Regions from separate parts of the Homo sapiens genome. Here region 1 is linked to region 2. The links come from fine-mapping of genetic effects on gene expression. A gene starts in region 2. The other region holds a variant in brackets. All regions are shown on one strand. Distances are from middle to middle.

The links. PIP is the estimated chance that this variant, and not a neighbour inherited with it, causes the effect.
Region 1: its variant is fine-mapped to the expression of TRIM65 in whole blood (INTERVAL, PIP 0.99).

The regions. Positions count from the first base shown.
Region 1 is chr17:75,845,649-75,860,818 of GRCh38, forward strand. It overlaps WBP2 (WW domain binding protein 2), which reads right to left and starts at 9,687. Exons shown (of 8, transcript NM_012478.4): 1 at 9,591-9,687; 2 at 5,920-6,028; 3 at 3,956-4,091; 4 at 2,922-3,014; 5 at 2,148-2,282; 6 at 1,839-1,961; 7 at 1,260-1,336; 8 at 51-1,139. The coding sequence starts at 9,649. The coding sequence ends at 1,086. RefSeq lists enhancers at 9,773-9,902, 10,511-11,306 and a silencer at 10,273-10,442. The variant G/A (reference allele first, on the strand shown) is at 6,069.
Region 2 is chr17:75,892,601-75,901,011 of GRCh38, forward strand. TRIM65 (tripartite motif containing 65) reads right to left here and starts at 4,351. Exons shown (of 6, transcript NM_173547.4): 1 at 3,924-4,351; 2 at 155-250. The coding sequence starts at 4,337. MRPL38 (mitochondrial ribosomal protein L38) reads right to left here. Exons shown (of 9, transcript NM_032478.4): 6 at 8,382-8,411; 7 at 6,916-7,074; 8 at 6,558-6,694; 9 at 6,044-6,386. The coding sequence ends at 6,250. RefSeq lists silencers at 3,621-4,190, 4,221-4,700 and enhancers at 4,068-4,777, 4,778-5,485.

The DNA of each region.
Region 1 (15,170 bases), 44 kb before region 2:
TCTCCTTCCGGAAGAGACCCCCGGGTCACCACACGCAGAGCCAGAAAGGGTCCAGTTATTTCATTTTTACTATTTCACATTTTCAGCAAACAAATCGAGGTGCAAACAGGGTTTATTTCACATTAATATATTAACTGGATTTTTTGTCAAATAAATAGGGAATTCTCTTTAAATAACCATCTCCTCACTTCATGGCCAGTCCAGGGACAAACAAGAGTGAATGTTAGCGCATCCAGGGGCACAAAGCTTAAGGGGAAGAAGCAGGCTGGGGGGCTGGTGGCAGGTCCCGGCCAGCACACAGGGTCAGGGGCCCTTGTTCCCGGCCCCACCCAGCAGCCACCAAGTGGACAGACATGCATTCTCTGGTTCCAGTCAGGAAGCTCCTTCTAGAAGGAAGTGAGAGGTGAGGGAAAGCAAATTCCAGAAACACCAGCAAAAGGCAGAAGGGCTTCCTCCCAGCCTCGGCGGCCCTGCCCCGACGCCACCCAAGCCCTGGAAGCTCATTTTACAGCTTCAAAAGTCACACAGGGTGGCAACAACATGACCCAGGACAGGGAAGGGAAGGAAGGGTGGCGGGGGCTGCAGCTGGACCCTGGCTGAGTGGAATGCGGGCGCGGTGGCCTTCTGAGACCAGCACAGACCAGCAGAGGGAATGTGAGCAGGGTCTGGCAGGGCCCGGGAAGACACCTGGCTGGTCTGAAGTGGCTCATGAGGCTGAGTGTAGCAGTGGGTGCCAGACTGAGGGAGCTGGACTGCGGTGGAGGAGGTGGCCAGAGAGTCCCTTCGAGGGGAGAAGCTGAGAGTGAAACAGGAACAGGGGATGCTCCGTGCTCCCAGAAGAGCCCCAGACGGTGAGGGAGGTACGCTGGGCAGCACTGTGGGCTCCGGGCTGGCATGGGAAGCTGGGCGGCACCTCTCCCGAGGCCGGGGGCCCTAATGTCCCACAATGCTAGTTCCTGGTAATTGTTTATGATCAGACCTGGAGGGAGAACAAGGCGCCCCCTCCCCTCCCCAAGCCCCAGCACAGCCCCGATGGGAGGGGTAGGGTAGAGAGATGAGGGTGGGAGGCAGGGAGGCAGGAGGGCCTACTGGGTCTTCTTATCTTCCGGTGGGTAGTAGGGAGGTGGCGGCGGCTGGCTCTAAAGAAGGGAGAAAGGAGAGACTTGCATTAGAAGGTTTAAAACATGGTGCGGTCATCCCCCTGCGGCTCCCAGCATCTGCGGCTGTGGGGCTGCACCGGCACTGCCAAGCCCTCTCACCGTGGGCATGTAGACGTTGTGAGGATTGCCTGGGTTGTAATAGGCGCTGGCGGCTGCTTCTGCGGCCTTGGCTTCGGCTGTGAGAGCAAACACACCTGGTGTCGGTGACAAGTTCTCCTCCCCCTGAGCTCAGCTAAGAGACCCCGGGCCCCCATGGCTCGGGGCAGCTGGTGCTGGGGGTCCAGTTCCACCAATGAGAGCAGCAGGTGAGGTTTCCTGAGCACATGCCACGCGCTGGCACGGTCCTTTCCAGGCCCATCGCATGTCTCACCTCATCTAATCCTTGAGCCAATGCCCCAGGTGCCACTGTGACCGACCAGCTGAGTGTAGATGAGAGGATCGAGAGGCACACAGGGTGACCTTCCCCGCCCAGGGCACATGGATAGCTAAGGGATGGGGGTGGGGCCAGAATCTAGCTCCGCTCCACCAGGCCACAGCCCTGCTGGGCCCCTGGGGTAGTCCAGGGGTCATCCATCATCTGCGGCTCTCAGCAGTCTCTGGCCATTCTGAGGCTCTCTGTGCGACATCGGGGAGGAGAGGGCTGGTCCCGAAGGGCTGCCAGCACCCAAGGGCCCTCACCTGCAGGAGTGGAGGGGACATCGGGGCCGCTGACCGGAGGTTCCATGGGCCCAGGGTAGGGCGGTGGTGGGGGCTGCACGTATCCCATGGCCCCGTCCATCATGGGGGGTCCTGGATAGAACTCTGCTCGGTGAGAGAGTAACAAGGACATGGTGAGCACCCGGCTGCGGCCCCCTCCCGGGTGAGGGGGGCCTCTCCAGCTCCTTCGTTGGTCCTGAAGCAGCTCAAGGAATAAAGTCTCCCTGGCCTGGGGGGAGCCTGGGTAGGTGGGCTCATGAGGGGAGTGGGGGCAGCAAAGGACACACTCACCAGGTGGGGGCGGTGGATAGGGGTAGCCAGGAGGGCAGGGGTACATTCCATTGGCGACTGGCGGGGGATAGACATAGGCCCCGCTGGGCATGTAAGAGTAGCCATAGGCTCCACTGGGGACTTCACCTCTGGAGGCTACGAGTACAAGGGGAAAGAGAAATGAGCGTGGCCTGCCTTGGGGCGGGGAGAGGGCAGCCCCGCTGCCTGCAGATGGGAGCTACTGGGTCTCAGGAATGTGCCCCGCAGACATCCTCTGTCCATCCCACTCCACCCTCCACCCATACTCGGGGGGCCACCTTGGTCAGGGATGAGAGAGGACGGGAGAGGTCAGAGCCAGGGGAAGGCAAGGGAGGTCAAGGGCAAGGCTGGAGGGTGGACAGAGGCCGGGAGGGAGGCTCAGGGCTGGGGTAGGAGTGAGCTGGCGGAGGATGTCTGCTGGCCCATCCCTCGGTCATTTTCAATGGCTGCGGAACCGCAGTCGAATGGTTGGTTTAGTGTTTGTTTTATGAGGCCATAGTAAAGTGTCCTTGAGTCCAAACAGCTTTGTCAAAACGTCATCCACCTGCCCCAGGCAGGGAAACGCAGTCTCTGAGGTACAGGACAGAGCTGATGCCAATGACAGCTTTCCTTCCCAACTCCTAGGCCTGGTCAGCCTGGTGCCCAAACACTTACCTCTTGAGTTCTTGAAAAAGCAAAACGAAAAGGAAGCAAACTCATACCAAACCCCTACATGTTTAGTGTGTCTTTAGCCCCTAATCTTCGGAGCCTGGATACCTTGAGATGCCACCTGGAGCATCCGCTGTCCGAACTCAATGGCGCCCCCTGCCGTGAAAGTCAACTTGTAGGAAGCAGAGCCTTCCCAGCCACCTGAAAGGGGAAGGACAGTGAATAAACAGCACAGGAAAAGAAAACTTATGCCCAAAGAGATGGCTGTTTTCCTCTCCAGGACTTCATCCAACGCCCGGGAGGCCTGCGGGGGCTGGGCCTGCACTGTGATGGGGACTTCCTGGTGCCATGGTTTCCAGCCTGCTGCCTGCATAGGAGCCAGCACTGCAGCCTGGCCTGGCCCTGCTGTACTCGCTTCCCCCTTTGGAACAATGGCCTCTCCTTCCTGGAACAAGCCTGTCCTCCCACCCTTGGCCCAATATGTACACGGGTGCCAAGGCCACATCAAGGTTTCTCTCCGCCCCCAGTCAAGCACTCGGCAGCTTCACAGGAACAAGCCCACTCAGCAACAGCCGACCTTAAAATTCAGAGCAGACCTCTCGTCCTAAGGGGGCCCAAGGACAGACTCCGGCCCCTCTAGCCTGGCTTCTGCCCAAAGGGGGACCAAGAGTGTCTCAATAGCAAGGGCGGGCCTGGCTGGGTGTCAAGGGGAAGGCAAGTTCAATGCAGAGGTCTCTGGGGCCTGCCAAAAAGCCAGCCCCAAAGCAGGGTGACTCTGGCTTCCCAGAGGCAGCTGCCTCTTCCTGGCTCTCATGAAAAGGCCCCTCTCAAGAACCTGATGCAGCTCCTTCCTGAGTCTAAAATTTGTATGCGCTCGCCAAGTTGCACTAAGCATCTTGACTCAGTCCGCAGGCTTCTGCAGACTTCACGCTCTGAAAAGCTGATCTGAGCTGCTGTCTTTCATGCCAGCATTTTCCCCACCTCTTGGCAATCAAACCCCACCAGCTGGCAGCCCAGAGCTGGGAAGAGGTCATGGCTAGGGCGATAAGGGTCTGAAGGGGACGCCCCCACGGCGGCAGTCAGAGGTTCCCAGGACACCTCCCTGCAGGCCCCATGCGTGTCCCTGAGTTCCCATCACCTACCTCCCGCTTCCGCCTTCACTGTTCCCTTGATGTAGTTTGCACCAAATACGGGCTGCTTGATCTCACAGTCTTTCATGAGATAAAATGGCATCATGAAGGACTGCATGGCATCCTTGCCCTTGGACAGAAAGATGACCTGCAGGGAGAGAGGGTGAGGCCATCAGTACTAGAAGCACAGCCCACGCTGCCATGCTTCCCGCCTGCTTCCTGGGAGTGACGAATCCTCTCCCAGTGCCAGGGTCCAGCAGCCCCATGGCTCTCTCTGTGCCAGACACTCCTGGAGAGAGCTTTGGAAAGGGAAAGGGCTCACCGCAGCCTGGAGAGGCCAAGCTCACGCACACGGGAGAAAAACGTGCTGGTCACAGATAGTATCTATGAGCAGGGCAGACTGCTTTGTCACTGACGTGGTGGGGTGGTGGCAGTGTTGCCTAAGTGAAGGGGCCTACGAAGCTAGGGAAGGACAGGCAGAGGCAAGGCAGGGATGGGTTCCTGAAAGAGGGGGGTCTCCAGCCTGAACTCTCCAGAACTGAGAATGATGGTGCAGTAGGTCGCTAGCTCCCATTGAGGGGGGCTATAAACAGCAACAAGAGCTCTCCTGGAGCCTGTGCCTGGAGAAACCCTTGGGTTTTATTTTTTCTTTTCTTTTCTTTTTTTTTTTTTGAGATGGAGTCTTACTCTGTTGCCTGGGCTGGAGTGCAGTGGCGCGATCTTGGCTCGCTGCAAGCTCCGCCTCCCGGGTTCACGCCATTCTCCTGCCTCAGCCTCCTGAGTAGCTGGGACTACAGGTGCCCGCCACCATGCCCGGCTAATTTTTTGTAGTTTTAGGAGAGATGGGGTTTCACCGTGTTAGCCAGGATGGTCTCGATCTCCTGACCTCATGATCCGCCCGCCTCGGCCTCCCAAAGTGCTGGGATTACAGGCATGAGCCACCGCACCCGGCCCCAGCCAGGGTTTTAAACCCACGACTTTTATCTGTGACTGAAGGTGCCAAGTTGAGCCTCCAGAGATGGGGTTTTGAGACTCTCCTGTCTTTGTGAAGTCATGGAGATTAAAACTTGAAAATGTGCTCCTCTTCTTCCAGCTGTCTTTGAGTCTAAGTCTTTTTTTTTTAGGCAGGGTCTCACTCTGTTGCCCAGGCTAGAATCCAGTGGCATGATCCCAGCTCACTGCAGCCTCAACCTCTCCAGGCTCCAGTTATTCTCCACCTTACCTCTCGGGTAGCTGAGACTAGAGGCATGTGCCACCACACCCAGCTAATTTTTGTATTTTTTGTAGAGATGGGGTTTTGCCATGTTGCCCAGGCTGGTCTCGAACTCCTGAGTTCAAGTGGCCTGCCTACCTTGGCCTCCCAGAGTGCTGGGATTACAGGCATGAGCCTCCGCACCAGCCTGTCTTTGAGTCTAAATCTTGAGTAGCCACAGGCAGCAATCCTTTTCCAAGAACATCCATTTGTATTTCTCAACCTCTCAGAGTCCACGTGGGTAACTCTCAGGCAGGGCCCATTCTGCAGCCTGGCATTTGTCATTCTGCGGGGTGGTACCGGGCTCTCTGCCCAGTCCGGAGGCCGTGCCATGCAACTGTACCCTGTTTACTGGATTTCTCACTCTGGATACACACAGGGCTTCATGGGCTACTCTCACAGAAAACAAAATATTAATAATAATAGTCTGGCCTCCAGGCCCAAGTCATGCCAGCGGCTGCATCCAACTCTATAGAGATTTTGCAGCAGCGGCTCTGGAATTGACATGGGTTCACTGCCCAGTGGTCAGGTCAGTTACACAAAGAGCCTGGTGATTCTGGAATCCAGGAGCATGTGACAGAGAAACAGGCAGAGTGAAGCACTAACACTCACCAGGATTCAGAGGCCACCTGACTCATGAGGCTGAGGCAGACCTGAGACTAAGACTCACGTCACCTCCAACAGCAACAAGCCTCTCAACCAACTGCCCTGCTGTGCAACTCACCCGGTAAGGGGTAAGGTAGACAGTGCCTTTCTTGGTCCCTTTGAAGGCTTCTGGCACGTTCTTCATGTCATTGAATGTGAGTTCCACGTGATCATAGGACATTAGGATGCTGTGATGAGAAAAGAGGAAAAGCCTCAATGAGACAGTAT[G/A]GAGACGCGACGTCACCCAGACACTGGGCCTTTCTCCCAAGCAGCTGCCCGGCACGTCAGCTCTCATAACCTCTCAATAGTGCGGCATTAAAACTATTCATAGGGCTGGGCGCGGTGGCTCACGCCCGTAATCCCAGCACTTTGGGAGGCCGAGGCGAGCGGATGACCCCTGGTCAGGAGTTTGAGACCAGCCTGGCCAACATGGTGAAACCCCATCTCTACTAAAAATACAAAAAAATTAGCCAGGCACCGTGGCGGGCACCTGTAATCCCAGCTAGTCAGGAGGCTGAGGCGGGAGAATCGCTTGAACCCAGGAGGCAGAGGTTGCAGTGAGCTGAGATGGCGCCACTGAACTCCAGCCTGGGCAACAAGAGAGAAGCTCTGTCTCAAAAACAAATAAATAAATAAAGCCATTCATAGGGCCAGGCGCAGTGGCCCACACCTGTAATCCCAGCACTTTGGGAGGCTGAGGCGGGTGAATCGCTTGAGCCTAGGAGTTTGAGACCAGCCTGGGCAACATGGTGAGACCTCATCTCTACAAAAAAACTAAAAACCAACAAAAAAACCCATTAATATAGCCATGGAAGAAATGAGCAGGTTGGGGGTTCTGTAAAATTTCCCAAACCCCGCTTATAAAGCCCCCAAATGATCAACATGGTAGCAGAGCTACAGGGCTCTGAAGAGGCCATCATCCCTCAAGCAAGTTAGATAATCTGGCTTAACTCTTCTATTTTCTTTATTTTTTTTTTTTTTTTTTGAGACGGAGTCTCACTCTGTCACCCAGGCTGGCGTGCAGTGGCGTGATCTCGGCTCACTGCAAGCTCCGCCTCCTGGGTTCATGCCATTCTCCTGCCTCAGTCTCCCAAGTAGCTGGGACTACAGGCGCCCGCCACCACGACTGGCTAATTTTTTGTATTTTTAGTAGAGACGGGGTTTCACCGTGTTAGCCAGGATGGTCTCGATCTCCTGACTTCGTGATCCACCTGCCTCGGCCTCCCAAAGTGCAGGGATTACAGGCGTGAGCCACTGCGCCCGGCCAACTCTTCTATTTTCTTTTAAGTCCTTGTGATAGATGTTCTGTTTTTGCTGGTTTGTTTTTCAAGCCTAAAATATAAACATGTCTAAGAGATGACTGTACAGATCACAATAGGACGTCCTTCGGGGTTCTTTTAAACCTGGGTTCTTAAGCGGGGTTTGCAGGAAAGTCCATGAAGCCCTTGAGATGATCACGTATGTCATATGTGCATTTTTCTGGGAGGAGAGTCCACAGCTTTCATCATTGTCAAAGGAGTTCACGACTTGAAGAGTAACGTTCACTATTTTAATTATAATTTTTTATTTTTTTGAGACGGAGTTTCACTCTTGTTGCCCAGGCTGCAGTGCAACATAGCGTGATCTCAGCTCACTGCAACCTCCACCTCCTGCGTTCAAGCGATTCTCCTGTCTCAGCCTTCCAAGTAGCTGGGATTACAGGCATGCGCCACCACGCCTGGCTAATTTTTTGTGTTTAGTAGAGACGAGGTTTTACCATGTTGGTCAGGCGGGTTTCAAACTCCTGACCTCAAGTGATCCACCCACCTCAGCCTCCCAAAGTGCTGGGATTACAGGCGTGAGCCACCATGCCCAGCCTAATTATCAAATTTTGGACACTGGACTTAACACTTCAATTGTTATAGATACAACTTTTTCAGACAGCAGGCTGAAGCACTTTCTAAAACAGCAGGCTGAAGGCACACCTTACTTAGCAGGACTGAGCCCTAAGCCAGGTAGAAGGCCGAGCAGGATAGATACATTCTTGTCTCAGAAAGTTCCACAGAGACAGAAAGAAAAACAGTCCCCAGAGATGTTGCCAAATGGCACGAAAAGCTGGCCAGGCCTGGGAACTGACTCACACACAGAGATGCAACAAAACAGTGTGAGGTGTCTCTGATTACATGATAAAAAGGTTCACACGGTTCTGTTTGTCTTCTGCCTCCCCCCATATATCACAACTTTCTCTGACTGGGGAAGGGTAAGTGGGAAACAACTGGTATAAGCAAAGGAAAATGGCTGGGCGCGGTGGCTCACTCCTGTAATCCCAATACTTTGGGAGGCCGAGGAGGGTGGATCACGAGGTCAGGAGTTCGAGACCAGCCTGCCCAACATGGTGAAACCCTATGTCTACTAAAAATACAAAAAATTAGCTGGGTGTAGTGGCGGGTGCCTGTAATGCCAACTACTGGGGAGGCTGAGGCAGGATAATCGCTTGAACCCAGGAGGCGGAGGTTGCAGTGAGCTGAGATCGTGCCACTGCACTCCAGCCTGGGCGACAGAGCAAGCCTCCATCTAAAAAAAAAAAAAAAAAAAAAAAAAAAAGAGAAGAGAAGTACTGCTCAGAGAAAAGAAGGAATTACCAGCAACAGGCTGGGCCCATGAAACTCTGAGCGGGTAAGATAGAGGGAAAGTGAGCATGCTGGGTCACTCTAGGCATTTTCCTCTGACTCATCAAACATTCCCAAGTCACAGGGCAGCTGGATGCTGGCCTTAGCTGGGTACAGGGCTCTGACTCCACGATGTCTCCTTTGGGGACTCAGGTGCCTCCTAAGCTCCTTCTGCCTTCAAGAGGCAATTCAGGGTCGGCATAGTTCAACCCAGGGCTGGCTGGTCTGATTTTCAATACCCAAGGAACAAAAGGAGACAGAGGCCATTTAAGGCTTCTCTTGGCAGAGACTGGAGGAGAGACAGGATGCAATGAGCAAGGGGTGGGGAGGATGGAGTGGAAAGAACCTTGAATTAGGAGAGCTCTGCCTTCCGAGGTGACCCAAACCAACAGGCATTCAAGAGAGAGGCAAGGGAATGACTACGGACCCACACAGTGCCAGGAACTGTTAGACACCTGACAAACGTCATCTGTTTAATTTCACCTCTGGGACCTCAGTTTTTTACCGGGAACCTGAACAGTTCTGGAACATACTGGAAGCCTGTATGCTGGTGGTTAATCCTATTAACTTTGGAGTCAAGACTCCTTTCCTGGAATTACCACCTCTGTTACTTACACAGTTGCGATCTCGGGCAAGTTACTTAACCTTTCTGCCCTCCACTTTCCCTACCTGTGAAATGTGGACAGTAGTAGATTATACTGCACAGAATTTATTAAATAAGGTAGAAAAGGCGCAGAGCCTGACACGTAGTAACGTTGTAGACATCCAATAAGTGACAATTATTTTTGTTTGGGGCTCCTCCCAGCTACTGAAATCACAAGTCTGGGAAGGGGTTCAAGAATCACCCCTAGGCCCCACCGGGGGCCCCATACCAGGTCCCCATGCAGACGTCCCACCCCCGCCTCCCAGCTGATCACAACCTCCCGGGCTCTCCCCCACGGCCCACCCACCTTCCTCCAACCCCGCCCCCAGCCGTTCCCCACCAACCTCACTCCATCAGTGCTCCCTCTTCAGGGGCTTATTCCCCACCACCCACCACCCACCGCCCACTTCCTCGACACCCGAACTTTGGTCCTCCAGGATCCTTCCGCAGTGTTTTCACCTCTCGGTGTTATTGACGATCACTCCGCCGCCCTCCGAGTGATTCTTGTTGAGCGCCATAGTCTCTCCAACAGGGGTCCCGAGACTCAAAACGCAATGAGCTTGCGCCCCTCTTCGCCCCGCCCCTAGTGGCGTCTTCTTATTAGAGTCAGCCAATCAAAGCTCGAGTGCGGAGGCTGGCCCAAACACCTGACCCGAACGTCACGTGGTAATAGTTTACTCCCTCCTTCCAGTTCCTCCTGCGCAACAAACAAGATGAAGACTACAATTCCCAGCAGGCAACGCCCCCGCAGCCTCGGCCTGTCCCTATGCTGGAGGAAGGATGCATTCTGGAACTTGTAGTCTCCTGGATCATAGGCCTGAATTGGTTCCACATTTTGCGTAACCAATCGGCTTGTGCCATCCCCACCCCGCCTCTTCAGCCGGACGGAAATAAACAGTTCCGCTCCTGGCAGGGGCGCGATCTTGGGGACTCCGGCAGCGCGTTAAGGGAAGTCCTGCTGGTCGAATGCGACCTGGACATGGCGTGGGAGCGCCGAGCTGTCCCCTTGTGGATGGGGAGCTTTCGTTCACTCAGCAGACGTTTATGGGGCGCATGCGTGACTCTGGGGCGTTTAGCTGAGCCGGAGGCCCCGGCTCTTGGGGACGCGGTGGGCTGGCGGCGTCGGATCACCCCGCCATCCATCTCACCACTCCCAGCGCTGAGCCCGGGGGGCGGGGAGAGTCCCTCATGGGAAGGGGAGGCCGTGTGCCCCGCCTGGCTCCCACCACGTTCGCAGGCCGGCCGGGCGCCCCTCGCAGCCCCCTCTCCGGCCTCGCGGTGGCGCCGCTCCCCCCTTAGCGCCCAGCGGGGTCCCGGCCGGAAGACTGAAGGCTGAGTGGGACTGGGCACGGCGCGAAACCGGCATCCTGATAACTAGGATTTACAGAATAAGGCTGACTCCTGTCAGCTCGTGACCCAGCCCTGGGCGTCCTCCACGGGGCAGCTGTCATTCCCTAACCGCCCCCCACCAAACCCCTGCACCTCCGAGCTGAATCCGTGAGGCGGAGAGAGGGGGCTGCACTTCCCACGTGGTAGTTCCGGTACTCGTTAATGTTAAGGAATTAGAGTTTGCTTTTCAGTAGACAGCTGCTTTCCTGACTGTGGTGGCCAACCTCTAGATCCACCTGCTTGACTTCGCTTTCCAGGGAGGTCTCCTATGTGAAGAAACAAAGCTGCCTCACTAGAAAAGATCAGGAAACAGCAGCGTTCTGTGAGGTCCTGTGCAATACCAGGTTGGACCTTGCGGGACAAGTACAGTGGGTTAAGGATAGTCATAATGAAATCTGCCCCAATGGTTAGATGTATTTTGGCGCCTGCAATCTCTGCAGTCTTTAAAAAGAATTAAGTCAGACTATGTGCTGATATGGGAAGATCATCAAGGGTTATTAAGCACAGAATGCTGTATACATATAGTTGTATTTGTATAAAAAATAGGATCTAGATAGAAAATTTTTGCAAAGATCCATCAGAAAATGTCTGTGGCATTTTTGAGACATGGGTCTAGGAATTTGGGGTGGATTGGTGACTCGGTATGTCAGTATGCATTGTACTCTTTGGTACTGTTTAATTTTTTTTTCCTATGTGCGTTTAAAATATAAATTTAGGCCGGGCGCGTGGCTCACGCCTGTAATCCCAGCACTCTGGGAGGCCGAGGCGGGCGGATCACGAGGTCAGGAGATCGAGACCATCCTGGCTAACAGAGTGAAACCCCTTATTAAAAATACAAAAAAAAAAAAAAAATTAGCCGGACGTGGTGGCGGGCGGCTGTAGTCCCAGCTACTTGGGAGGCTGAGGCAGGAGAATGGCGTGAACCCGGGAGGCAGAGCTTGCAGTGATCTGAGATTGCGCCACTGCACTCCAGCCTGGGTGACAGAGTGAGACTCCATCTCAAAATAAAATAAAATAAAAATAAATAAATAATATGTAAATTTAAAAAAGAAAAGCAGGCCGGGGTTTGTGGCTCACGCCAAAGGCGTGAGCCAAATTCCAGCACTTTGGGAGGCCAAGGCAGGTGGATCACCTGAGGTCAGGAGTTCAAGACCAGCCTGGCCAACATGGTGAAACTCCATCTCTACTAAAAATACAAAAATTAGCCGGGCATGGTGGCGGGCACCTGTAATCCCAGCTACTCGGGAGGCTGAGGCAGGAGAATCGCTTGAACCTGGGAGGCAGATGTTACAGTGAGCCAAGATCATGCCACTGCATTCCAGCCTAGGCGACAGAGCAAGACTCCATCTCAGAAAAAAGAAAAAGAAAAGCAAAATCCAGGCCTGGTGCCGTGCCTGTAATCCCAGCACTTTGGGAGGCCAAGGTGGGTGGATCACTTGAGGCCAGGAGTTTGAGACCAGCCTGGACTACATGGCAAAATCCCATCTCTATAAAAATACAAAAATTAGGCCGGGCGCGGTGGCTCACACCTGTAATCCCAGCACTTTGGGAGGCCAAGGTCGGCGGATTACCTGAGGTCAGGAGTTCAAGACCAGCTGGCTAACATGGAGAAACCCCGTTTCTACTAAAAAATACCAAAAACTAGCCGGGTGTGGTGTTGTGCGCCTGTAAGCGCCTGTAATCCGCGCGCCTGTAATCCCAACTACTCGGGAGGCTGCGGCAGGAGAATCCCTTGAACCTGGGAGGTGGAGGTTGCAGTGAGCCGAGATCACGCCATTGCACTCCAGCTTGGGCAACAAGAGCAAAACTCCATCCCAAAAAAAAAAAAAAAAACGCAAAAATACAAAAATTAGTTGTGCATGGTGGCGTGGTTCCTGTAATCCCAGCTAATAGGGAGGCTGAGACATGAGAATTGTTTGAACCTGAGAGGCGAAGGTTTCAGTGAGCCAAGATCGTCCCAGTGCACTCCAGCCTGGGCAACAAAGGAAGATTCTGTCTCAAAGAAAAGAAAAAGAAAAAAAGGAAAATCCCCCCAGCAAAGAGCAGGCAGCATTGGCTGCTCTAAGGACCATAAATGGGAAGATGGGGACAACCTGCCCACCCCTCTCCCACCCCTTTGCCAAATACGTTGGAGACAGGAGCAAGTTCAGGTTTTGCCAGGCCTTGAAGCTTATACAATTTTGGAGGCTGTCTTGGTTGTTTATGTTTTTGTTTTTTGAGACAGGGTCTCATTCTGTCACCCAGGTGCGATCATAGCTCACTGCTTCCTTGGAACTCCTGGACTCAAGTGATCTGGAGGCTCTTTTTAAGAAATAAAATACACAGGCCGGGCGCAGTGGCTCATGCCTGTAATCCCAGCACTTTGGGAGGCTGAGGAAGGTGGATCACCTGAGGTCAGGAATTTGAGACCAGCCTGGCCAACGTGGTGAAACCCCGTCTTTACTAAAAATACAAAAAATTAGCTGGGTGTGGTAGCGGTCACCTGTAATCCCAGCTACTCGGGAGGCTGAGGCAGGAGAATCGCTTGAACCCTGGAGACGGAGGTTGCAGTGAGCTGAGATCAAGCCACTGCACTCCAGCCTGGGCAACGAGAGGAAAGCTCTAACTCAAAAAAAAAAAACAACCCCACAATTATTCATTCACAATACTGTGGCTACAGTGAGGCCTCCTGACAGGAGGGGAAATGACAAGAAGAGGAAGTTGCAGTGCAGAGATAACAAGCTTGACCAGCTCCGGCTACAATGTCCAGAATTTCTAAGTTTTACAAAAACATATGACCATGTGAACACACTTCCTGGGCGGCTCCCATGACTTTGGGGCTGGAACGTACCAGAACTCAAAACTCAAACCGAAGACTTCAACAATGGTTTATTGCTGAACCAGGTGAGCAGCAGGAGGCTCCCCTGGGCCCAGGTCTCAGTACTCAGACCTCTCCTCTGGCCTCATACTCCTGTCTGCCTGTCTCCAGATCTCTTTTTCACTGCAGTATGATGCTCATATTCTCCACACTGGAGCACATCTTAGCGGTGCGCTAAGGAGGAGTGCAGGTTGGCCTCAGATACCAGCAGGCAAGGTCTGGGGCAGCTGAGCCCCTGAACTGGTCACCTGTTTTTTCTGTTTATAATTTTATTTATTATTTATGTATTTATTTTTGATACAGGGTCTTGCCCGTCTCCTGGGGTGGAGTGCATTGACATGATCTCTGCTCACTGCAGCCTCCGCCTCCCGGGTTCAAGCAATTCTCATGCCTCAGCCTCCAGAGTAGCTGGGACTACAGAATCGTGCCACCACGCCCAGCTAATCTTTGTATTTTTAGTAGAGATGGGGTTTCACCATGTTGGCCAAGCTGGTCTCAAATTCCTGACCTCAAGTCATCCGCCCACCTAACACTCCCGAAAGTGTTAGGATTACAGGTATGAGCCACCGCCCCCGCCTGGTCGCCTCTTGACTCCCAATAAGATGAATCTGTTTGCCCCAGTGAGCCAAATAAATACCATTTTCACTGAACAAATCATTTTCTGTGTGTGCCATGACATAAAAGAGGTTGGCAGGCCCGTAGAGGTGGCTCATGCCTGTAATCCCAGCATTTTGGAAGACTGAGGCAGGAGGATTGCTTCAGCCCAGGAGTTTAAGACCATCCTGGGCAACATAGTGAGACCCTCCCTCTAAAAATTTAAAAAAAAAAAAAAAAAAAAAGGTTGGCAGCATTTACCAAACGGTGGCTGTTTTTCCTTACCTTGACCCACAGTAAAAATATATAGGGCTTGAGCCCAGGAGTTTGAGACCAGCCTGGGTGACAGAGCGAGACCCTGTCTTACATTGTCACTCAGGCTGGAGTGGTGCAGTCATGGCTTACTGCACCTTCAACCTCCCGGGCTCAAGCAATCTTTTTACGTCAGCCTCCTAAGTAGCTGGGACTACAAGTGCACATCACCATGCCTGGCTAGTTTAAAAAATTTTTTTGGTAGAGATGGGGTTCCATTATGTTGCCCAGGATGGTCTTGAACTCCTGGCATCAAGCAGTGGTCCTGCCTCAGCCTCCCAAGTAGCTGAGAGTACAGGCCCTGCCACCACCACATGCTGCTTAATTTGTATTTTGTAGTGGGATATATTCTGAAATTTTCTGTTTTATTTTGTCATCTTAAAAAATTGCTGCAAGCAGCCGGGCGCAGTTGCTGACGCCTGTAAATCCAGCACTTTGGGAGGCCGAGGCAGGCAGATCACGAGGTCAGGAGATCAAGACCATCCTGGCTAACACGGTGAAACCCTGTCTCTACTAAAAAAAAAAAATACAAAAAAATTAGCCGGGTGTGGTGGTGAGCACCTGTAGTCCCAGCTACTCAGGAGGCTGAGGCAGGAGAATGGCGTGAACCCAGGAGGCGGAGCTTGCAGTGAGCAGAGATCGAGCCACTGCACTCCAGTCTCGGCGACAGAGTGAGACTCCGTCTCAAAAAAAAAAAAAAAAATTGCTGAAAGGGCCGGGCTCGGTGGCTCGCACCTCTAATCCCAGCACTTTGGGAAGCCGAGGCGGGCAGATCACCTGAGTCAGGAGTTCAAGACCAGCCTGGCCAACATGGTGAAACCCCGTCTCTACTAAAACTACAAAATTAGCCGGGCATGGTGGCGCAAGCCTGTAATCCCAGCTACTCG
Region 2 (8,411 bases):
GGGGAGGCAGGGTCCCGGGAACCTCCCCAGGACCCCTGTGCCCAGCTCCCTGCTCAGCCCCGCTCCCTGCTGCCTGGTGTTCCAGGGACCAGCTGGTGGCCGCCCCAGGATGCAGTGTGAGGCCATGGTGGGCGGGCAGGCACAGGCCTCGTACCTGGATCTGGCTGCTTTGCTTGCGCAGCTCTAGTAGCTGGCCTTCGGCCTGGGTGGCCTGCTGCTGGGTAACCTCCAGGCTGGCTCTCAGCTGGGCCTGTGGTGCGGGCCCACGGGACAAGCAACAAGAGAAGGCCAGGATTGGCTGTGATGTCCTTTCTCAGACAACCAACCATGCCTGCAGACACCAGGCAGCCCCTCCCCACGCCACCCCAGGCCAGCCTCCAGAGCACCGGCCTCGGTCTAACCCAGGGAGAGTTGGGGCCGTGCCCCGGGGGGGTCCAGACAAAGTCCTTCCTAATCTGCAGCAGGGTGGTGCCTGAGCAGAGCGGAAGCCTTGGGCTCAGGACCCAACTTCCATTCCCATTTCTACCTCTTGCATGCTGAGCAAGCTGAGGCCAAGCACCTGTCCTCTCTGGGCCTAACCCCCCACCCATCAATACAGGAAAGCGATAATGCTGGCTCAGGAGGCCTCGCAGGGAGGACCCCAAACACTAAAGCCGTTGGTCCCTGTCTCACTGCAGAGGGGTCAGTGGCCCAGGAGGCCCTGGGGCTTGAGAAGCTGACTGCAGGGACCTCCCAAAGCACCAAAGCTGTCTGACAAGTGGGCAGTTACTTGCTGGATAAACTAGATTCTTCTGGGGATCCGGCCAGTCCCTGGCCCTAGTTTTGAGACTGAGAGGGGAGGAAGGGACCCCTATTCGGTTGCGCTCCCTGAGTCCCTTGGGAATCAAAACACCGTGCTCTCATGAGAGCAGGACAAACCACGCAGGTCCCAGGGGCTCCATTCCCAGCACCTGGTCAAAAGCTTCACCACCTTGTTTCTGCTCCTCCCGCAATGCACTGAGATGGGGACCATTACTATCCCCACATCACAGAGGAGGAAACGGGCTCAGAGAAGTTGATAATTTGGTCAAAGTCCTCAGATCTTCCTAAGCCCAGAGCTCCTCCGGGCCCCCAGCCTCCAGCATTTCACACAGGAACACAGGAGGCCGGAGGGCAGGCTCTCCCAGGGCACCCAACCCTCCCCCAGGGACAGGCACCCCCATGTCCCTTTCCCTCTCTCTTGCAAAATCCTGGCTCCCCTGGTGCTACTGGCTGCCCCTGTCGCTCCCTTCCTCCACATGGCCCTCATCTACCGGCCTCCAACTCAAACTTCCGTGCCTAGCTCAGTCTTCTGCACCCGCCCATGAGCAGTACATCTCGTCTCATCCTCCTCGGCGGCTTCAGCAGCTACAAGGAATGTCCCGCAACACTCTGGAGCCCTTTTCCTTCACCTCATCTCAGCCGCTCCTGTGAACTCACCCTGGCCCTGTCACCAGCTCTAAAATCTCCATTCTAGGCATCGATTCTTCCTTCTCTGACCACTGCCTTCGTGCCCTCTCCTGTTCCAGCCACCTCTGTCTCAGTCCTCCCACCTCACCGACCCCCAGCCGTGCACTCTCCCATCCCTCCCTGCCCATCAGGCCTCCTGGCCACCCCTTCCCTTCCTGTCCCATCCAGCGTCCCTGCGCCATCCTCCATCCACGCCTTAGCCCCAGGCCTCCTCTGTCCCCGAATGATTCCACATCCTGTCTTCGCTGCTGAAATGGGTTTTGTCAAGGGCACGGACCACCTCCACAGTACCGATGCTGAAGGTCATTTCTGTCCTCGTACTGAGCCTCTGATCAGCATGGGCATCCTGCCCGTTCTCTTCCTGGCACCCCTGTCTCCAGGTGCCACACAGGGCTGCCATTCCCCCGACCTTCCCCATCTCCCTGGGAGCTCCAGCTTGGAACCTTCTCTTCCTCCTAGCGCTAATGATTCCCAGCTCTCGACTTCCAGCTCCCCGCTCCTGAGCTTTGGAGCTCACAGCAAGCTCCGCCTCCCGGGTTCACGCCATTCTCCAGCCTCAGCCACCAGAGGAGCTGGGACTACAGGCGCCCGCCACCAGGCCTGGCTAATTTTTTGTATTTTTAGTAGAGACAGGGTTTCACCATGTTAGCCAGGATGGTCTCAATCTCCTGACCTCGTGATCCACCGGCCTCCGCCTCCCAAAGTGCTGGGATTACAGGCGTGAGCCACTGCACCCGGTGGTGGCCAGGCTGCGGGGGGTCCGGCCCCCTCCTGCTCCTGGCGGCAGCACCCACTTGAGGAGGTGACCCTCACTCATGGTGCACAAGCTGCAAACACAACAGCCCTTGGTCTGGCAGAAGAGCTCCAGCAGCTGCCCGGGGCGGGGTCAGCGCGCGGCAGGGCTGGGGCCAGGGTCCCAGGTGCCACAGGCCCGTCCCCTGGTTTGTCCCACTGGCCACTGTGACCTCTATATGTCCAAGGCCAAACTCTGCCCTCCACCTACGCCTCTCAGGACATAGCACCCCAGCCACCTGCGTGCTCAAGACAGAAACCCAGGTGTCTCCCTTGCCGCCCTCTCTGCTGTCCCCCGTGTCCCCTCTGGCCTGCTTTCGCCTCCACAAGGTACCACTTCCCCTCAGCGTTTCTCATCTCCTCCTCCATCTTGGTCTCCCTTCCCTGATCCCCAGCTGGTTCTTTGCCTCCCTGCACTCCTACCCGATTCGGGTCTTACATCCTGCCCCCTTCAGCCCCCAGCCAGGTGATCAGTCTCCATGAAGCCCAAATCTGATCATGTGCCAACCTGCTTCCAAGCCTATAATGGCCCCCATGACCCTACAGTAAGAGCCAGACTCCCCCAGGACCCTGCCCGATCCTGCCCCTGCTGACCCCCAGGGCCTGGCCCACAGATCTCAGTGGCACAAATCTGCCACTAGGGACCCCGCGTGCCCAGTTCTTTCCCATCCCAGAGACGGGACCAGGCTGATTCCTCTGCCTAGAATGCTCTTCCCCAGGTCTTTCTCCTGGCTTGCGCTTCCTCAATCCTCACATGCCAGCCTGAAGGCGGCCTCCCCTTCCTCCTCCTGGCCCGTTTAGCAGGGTCACCCCAACCCCTCTATCACATGCCATGTGCTTTCCTCACTGCATTTTGTAATAATACATTCACGCCTTACTGGAACACTGACTTCTTAAGTGGATTCTAAGTCTCTTAAGGGCAGGGAGCTCGTCTGATCCATTTACCAACAGCCCCCATAGCCCCCTCGCCCTCCACAACCCCGCACAGCGAATGAAAGGAGGCTCTCGGAGCGCAGGAGACACACGACGGTTCTCTAGCGCTTGGGCACGGAGCAGGGAGCTGCTGCCTCACGCCCAGGCTTTGTTCATCCAGAGGGCACCGAGCAGCTTCTGAGACCCACCCTGTGTCACTGGCCGGGCTGCATATCCCAGTCTGATGCACAGACCCACGATTTTTTGTTTGTTTATTTTCTGAGACGGAGTCTCGCTCTGTCGCCCAGACTGGAGTGCAGTGGCACGATCTCGGCTTACTGCAAGCTCCACTTCCCGGGTTCACGCCATTCTCCTGCCTCAGCCTCCCGAGTAGATGGGACTACAGGCGCCCGCCACCACGCCCGGCTAACTTTTTGTATTTTTAGTAGAGACCGGGTTTCACCGTGTTAGCCAGGATGGTCTCGATCTCCTGACCTCGTGATCCGCCCGCCTCGGCCTCCCAAAGTGCTGGGATTACAGTCGTGAGCCACTGCGCCTGGCAGACCCACGACTTTTATAATCAGCTCCCAGGTTGGGAGAAGCCCCTTACAGATGAGGCTCCCCGCCCCCGCCGGGTGCCCGAGAGAGCAGGGCGCGGCCCGCAGGAGTCACCCGGCGGTGGCCAGGCTGCGGCGGGTCCGGACCCCTCCCGCTCCCGGCGGATGCGTCACCTCGCGCTTGAGGCGCTCGGCATCCAGCAGCGCCCGCTCGTGGAGGCGACACTCGCGCACGGTGCACACGCTGCACACACAGCGGCCCTCGGTCCGGCAGAAGAGCTCCAGCGGCCGCCCGTGGCGGGGGCAGCGCGCGGCAGGGTCGGGGCCGGGGCCGGGATCGGGGCCGGGATCCCGGGCGGGCCCGGCGCGCACCACCTCCAGCACGCCGCTGAGGGCCACGTTGCGGCGCAGCTCGGCGCCGTCGGGAAAGGGCTCCCGGCACTCGGGGCACGCCTTTCCGCAGCGGTCCCACCAGTCCCGGATGCAGGCCCCGCAGAAGTTGTGGCCGCAGGGCAGCGTCACTGGGTCCTGGTAGAGCCCCAGGCAGATGGCGCAGGTCAGCTTCTCCTCCAGCAGCTGCGCGGCCATGGCCCGGCGGCGGCGAGAGCCAGGCGGGCCCCGGGCGTCTTAAAGGGACCGCGGGCCTCGCGCGCTGAGGGCGCCTGGGCGTGGCTAACGCGGGGCGGGGCGAGATCCGGGCGGGGCGGGGCGAGATCCGCGCCCGGGAAGGCGGAGGGGGGCGGCAGGCCCTTCTCTGACACCCTCGACGAGCGACCGCCGCAGGGGCCTAGGCCACCCCTGCCCACCTCGGCCTGGCCCGCTCGAAGGTTCCGCGTTCCCGCCTTGCGCCCCTCCCTCCGTTAGGGTCCACGCCACCCCGGCTGAGAGCTGAGTTCGGCTCTCTAGGGTCCCAGCCTGGCGGGTCCATCCCACCCCCCTGGGCCTTCAGCCCAGGTCCTGGAGACCAGAGGCTCGAAAACCCCGCCAGGACTCCGGGCTTCTGACCACGGGCCGCGCGGAACCTCTTCTGGACTCATCTGCCAGTCGCCTAACAGCATAGACCCCCACCCCCAACAATCCCCCGGGGCTTGGCGATGAAACGGGCTGGCGGGCTCCCTGCAGACCCGAGCACTGCTGCACTTTTTCCTGGAGCTGGGTTTCGGACACTTGCCAGACTGGGGTGTCTCCCTTCTCTGGGCTACACGTAATTTTGGTTCTTTTAAAGTAAACAGCGAGATGGAAATGTCTGGTCACCAAGAGACAGGGACCAGTTAACTGGTATTTTTCAAATGGCCCTGAATGAATACACAAACCAGCTTTCATCTGCAATCAGCATCCCCTCTTCCTGCTGCCCTCCGCTGGGGAGAGTTCCTTGCCTGGGGTCCAAGCTGATCTGCAGCCTCAGTATTTACAGGCACTCCAGCATTTCCCCTGAAGCTGAGCAGGCAAGGCGGGTCTGGGGCCTAGCGCCCACCTACCTGACAGTGTGTATCAGGCCAGGGGGAACCCCAGGAGAGTACGGCCTTTCTAACCAAGCTGGGCTGATGTTGAGGCGGCACGAGCTCTCACTGCTGCAGCAAGCACTGCGTCCTCTGTGCGGCCATAGACGAAGTTTCTTTCTGGACAAAGTGCACGGATCTACCCTCCACCTACTAGTTAGCCAGACTTCTGCTTTTGGTAAGGGAGAAACAAAACACCTAACCATCCAGCCGCAAGACTCCATGGGTTTTCTGACCCTGAGCAGGTCTCTTGAGACACGCTGTTGCCTACCTAATGTGGCTTCTCCTCCCAAGCATGGGGTGGGGGCTGGAGCCTGTGCAGAGGGTCAGTGCTCGGGCAGGCACTCTCTCTCCAGGGGCCGGTGGGACCCCCCTGAGGCACAGAGCCAGTGCTCAATAAATGCTCCTTCCTGAGCCCAGCTGCTCTGCTCCACTTTTTCGGGGAGCTGGGTTTCAGGAACCTGCTGGATTGGGATGTCTCCCTTCCCTGGGCCACACCTGTTTTTGGCCCACTGCCTGCTTTTGCTTCGGATCCCAGGGCCCCTGACACCCTCAGAAGACGGAGGTGAGGACGCACTTAGTGGGGTGGGAGGCAGCCCGTTTCCCACCCATGAAGCTCCATCGGGGTCCTCTGGCCCTGGAGCACCGACCCAGGCCAGCTATGGCAGAAATCCCTTTTTTTAAAAAATACAGGCAGGGTCTCATTATATTGCCAGCTGGTCTTGAACTCCTGGGCTCAAGCGACCCTCCCTTCTCAGCCTCCCAGTGTTGGAATTACAGGTGTGAGCCACCAAGCCCGGCAAGAAATCATGTTTATTCACATTCCCCACCCCACCACCTGAGAGTCACTTTCACTCCAAGCCCTGGGCCTGACGGGAGGGGGCCAAAGAGGGGGGCTGCCTAAGGCAGGGCCCAGACCCCACAGTGTGGGCCTCTGGAGCTGTGTCTTTACTCTTGCTGCCGATCAATCCCATGCTCTGAAATGCGCACACTCTGGCTCCTTAGTAGATGCCATAGGTGGGCTCATGACTGTCCCTGTACCGGTCCAGGTAGCGCAGGGGCTGCCGGTGGGGGAAGCGCTTCTGCTTGGGGTGGTAAGGGGGCGGCCGCACGAACTCAAACACCGGCTCCCGCATGTCTGCAAGAAGAGTGAGGGGTACGGGGTGGTCTGCTGGCCTGCGCCCCCTCAGGCTGAGGCCTGCCCACCAGGGACCTGCCGCAGCCTTCCCCTAACAAAGCTTCTCCCTGGCAGGGCAGGCGAGGCCTGGGAGCTCAGGCCCACCCAGTGCCCCAGCCCCATGGCCCTTACCCAGAAGCTGGTGGAAGATGTAGGTGACGGAGTCATCCCAGCGGCACTGGAAGAAGGACAAGCCGGCTGGAGTCATGGTTTCTTGGTGTTTCTTGTAGAAATCAAAAGTGCGGAAGGTCCGCTGGGCCAGCTGATAGCTATGAGAAGATAGAGAGCGTATGAGAGTGTGGAGTGGGGCACCAGAGCCCCTCACCCCGCCACCCCAACAGGTAACCCTGAGAGGCCCCTGGGAGTCTGCTAGCACCCTATCCTGCTCTTCTGCCAGTCTCAAGGCTGAGGTCAAGAGAGAACTGAGCAAGAGTGACCGTTCCAGGGGAGCTGGCCTGAGGCCGGGTTATGTGTGGGTGGTGTAGATTACCAGGGTGAGGGGCGTGCGTCCTCAGAGAAGTCAATCGGCTGGTCCTGCTTGAAGAGCAGGAAGGCAAGACGGTGGATGCCGGAGCCTCGGGCAGGGAAGGGGGGGAGGTAGGGACACGTCACCTGTCCTTCAGCCACCCGGTTACCCGGGATGTTGGTTCTGGGAGGAGGAAAGTCCCGGTTAATTACCACTCCAGGGAGGCAGCAGGAGTGTCCCCTCAGCTCCATGCACACCCTAGAGGCTGACATGACTCCCTGGGAGGACAGCTCTAAGCATCTCTCTCCTGGGACAGAGGAGGCAGCCAAGCTCTGTGAACGCCGGGACATGCTGCAAATACGGGAAGCGGGCTGGAGGAGCTCCGAGTGGGGGACAGGGCTCCAGAGAGCATCAGCTTGACAGCAAGGCCATGCAGCCGCTTCCAGGCCCCGGGAGCCGGTGGGTCCGCCACAGTCACTGAGGCTAGAAAGCCAGGCCACTTTTGGCTGCTTTTCCCTCTGCGTCCTGAAGTCTCCAGGACCTCGTCAGGGAGTGTGTGCCCAGCCTGGCACAGGGGCGGCCAACGCCTCAGGCACAAATCCCCAGAGGGTCCTGCCGCATAGGCTGGTAACAGTTGAATAAAAATGACGGAAACCAGCCTCCCAGTCACTGTCCCCAGTTAACCAGAAGGCTCAAAGTTGGGGTCACTGGCCTGACCTCTGCCCCCTGGCCTGGTGTTCAGAGCCAAAAGCTACCAAGATGGAAGGCCGCCCAGTCTGGGCCCAGGGAAGGAGCGCCCAGTGGTTCAAGGAGCACCTGGGGGACGCCACAGCTGCTAGGCCTCTCCCGCTCCTTCTCCCACGTGACTGTCACAGTCCACCTCACGCTGAGTAAGGCATGTGGTGCCATTATCCCAGTTTTACAGGTGAAGAAATGAGTTTAGAGACGAAGGGCCCAGGCATGGTGGCTCACGCTTATAATCCTAGCACTTTGGGAGGCGGAGGCGGGCAGATCGCTTGAGCTCAGGAGACCAGCCTGGGCAACATGGTGAAACCCTGTCTCTATAAAAAAATACAAAAATTAGCTGGGTGTAGTGGTTTGCACCTGTAGTCCCAGCTACTCAGGAGACTGAGGTGGGAAGAGCACCTGAGCCCAGGAGTTAGCGGCTGCAATTAGCCATGATTGCACCACTGTACTCCAGCCTGGGGGACAGAGTGAGACCCTGTCTCAAAAAAAAAAAAAAAAAAGAAAAGAAAAGATGAGGAGGCTTGTGGGGACTGACCGAGGCCTACTGCAAACTTTGTCTCCTGTAGCTGTCTTCAAGTAGACACGTGGATCCCAGGGCCCCTAACACCCTCAGGAGGCAGAGGTGGCAGGTGAATTCAAGGTCCCATGGGTAGTCCATGAAACTCAGGAGCAGCTCAGTCCAGGCTCCCAGCTCCTCTTCCCGCCTGGGCAGCACCCCCTACCCCCAGTACTCCAGTACTCACAGCAGCCAGTGGAGGTACTCAGCATCTGGC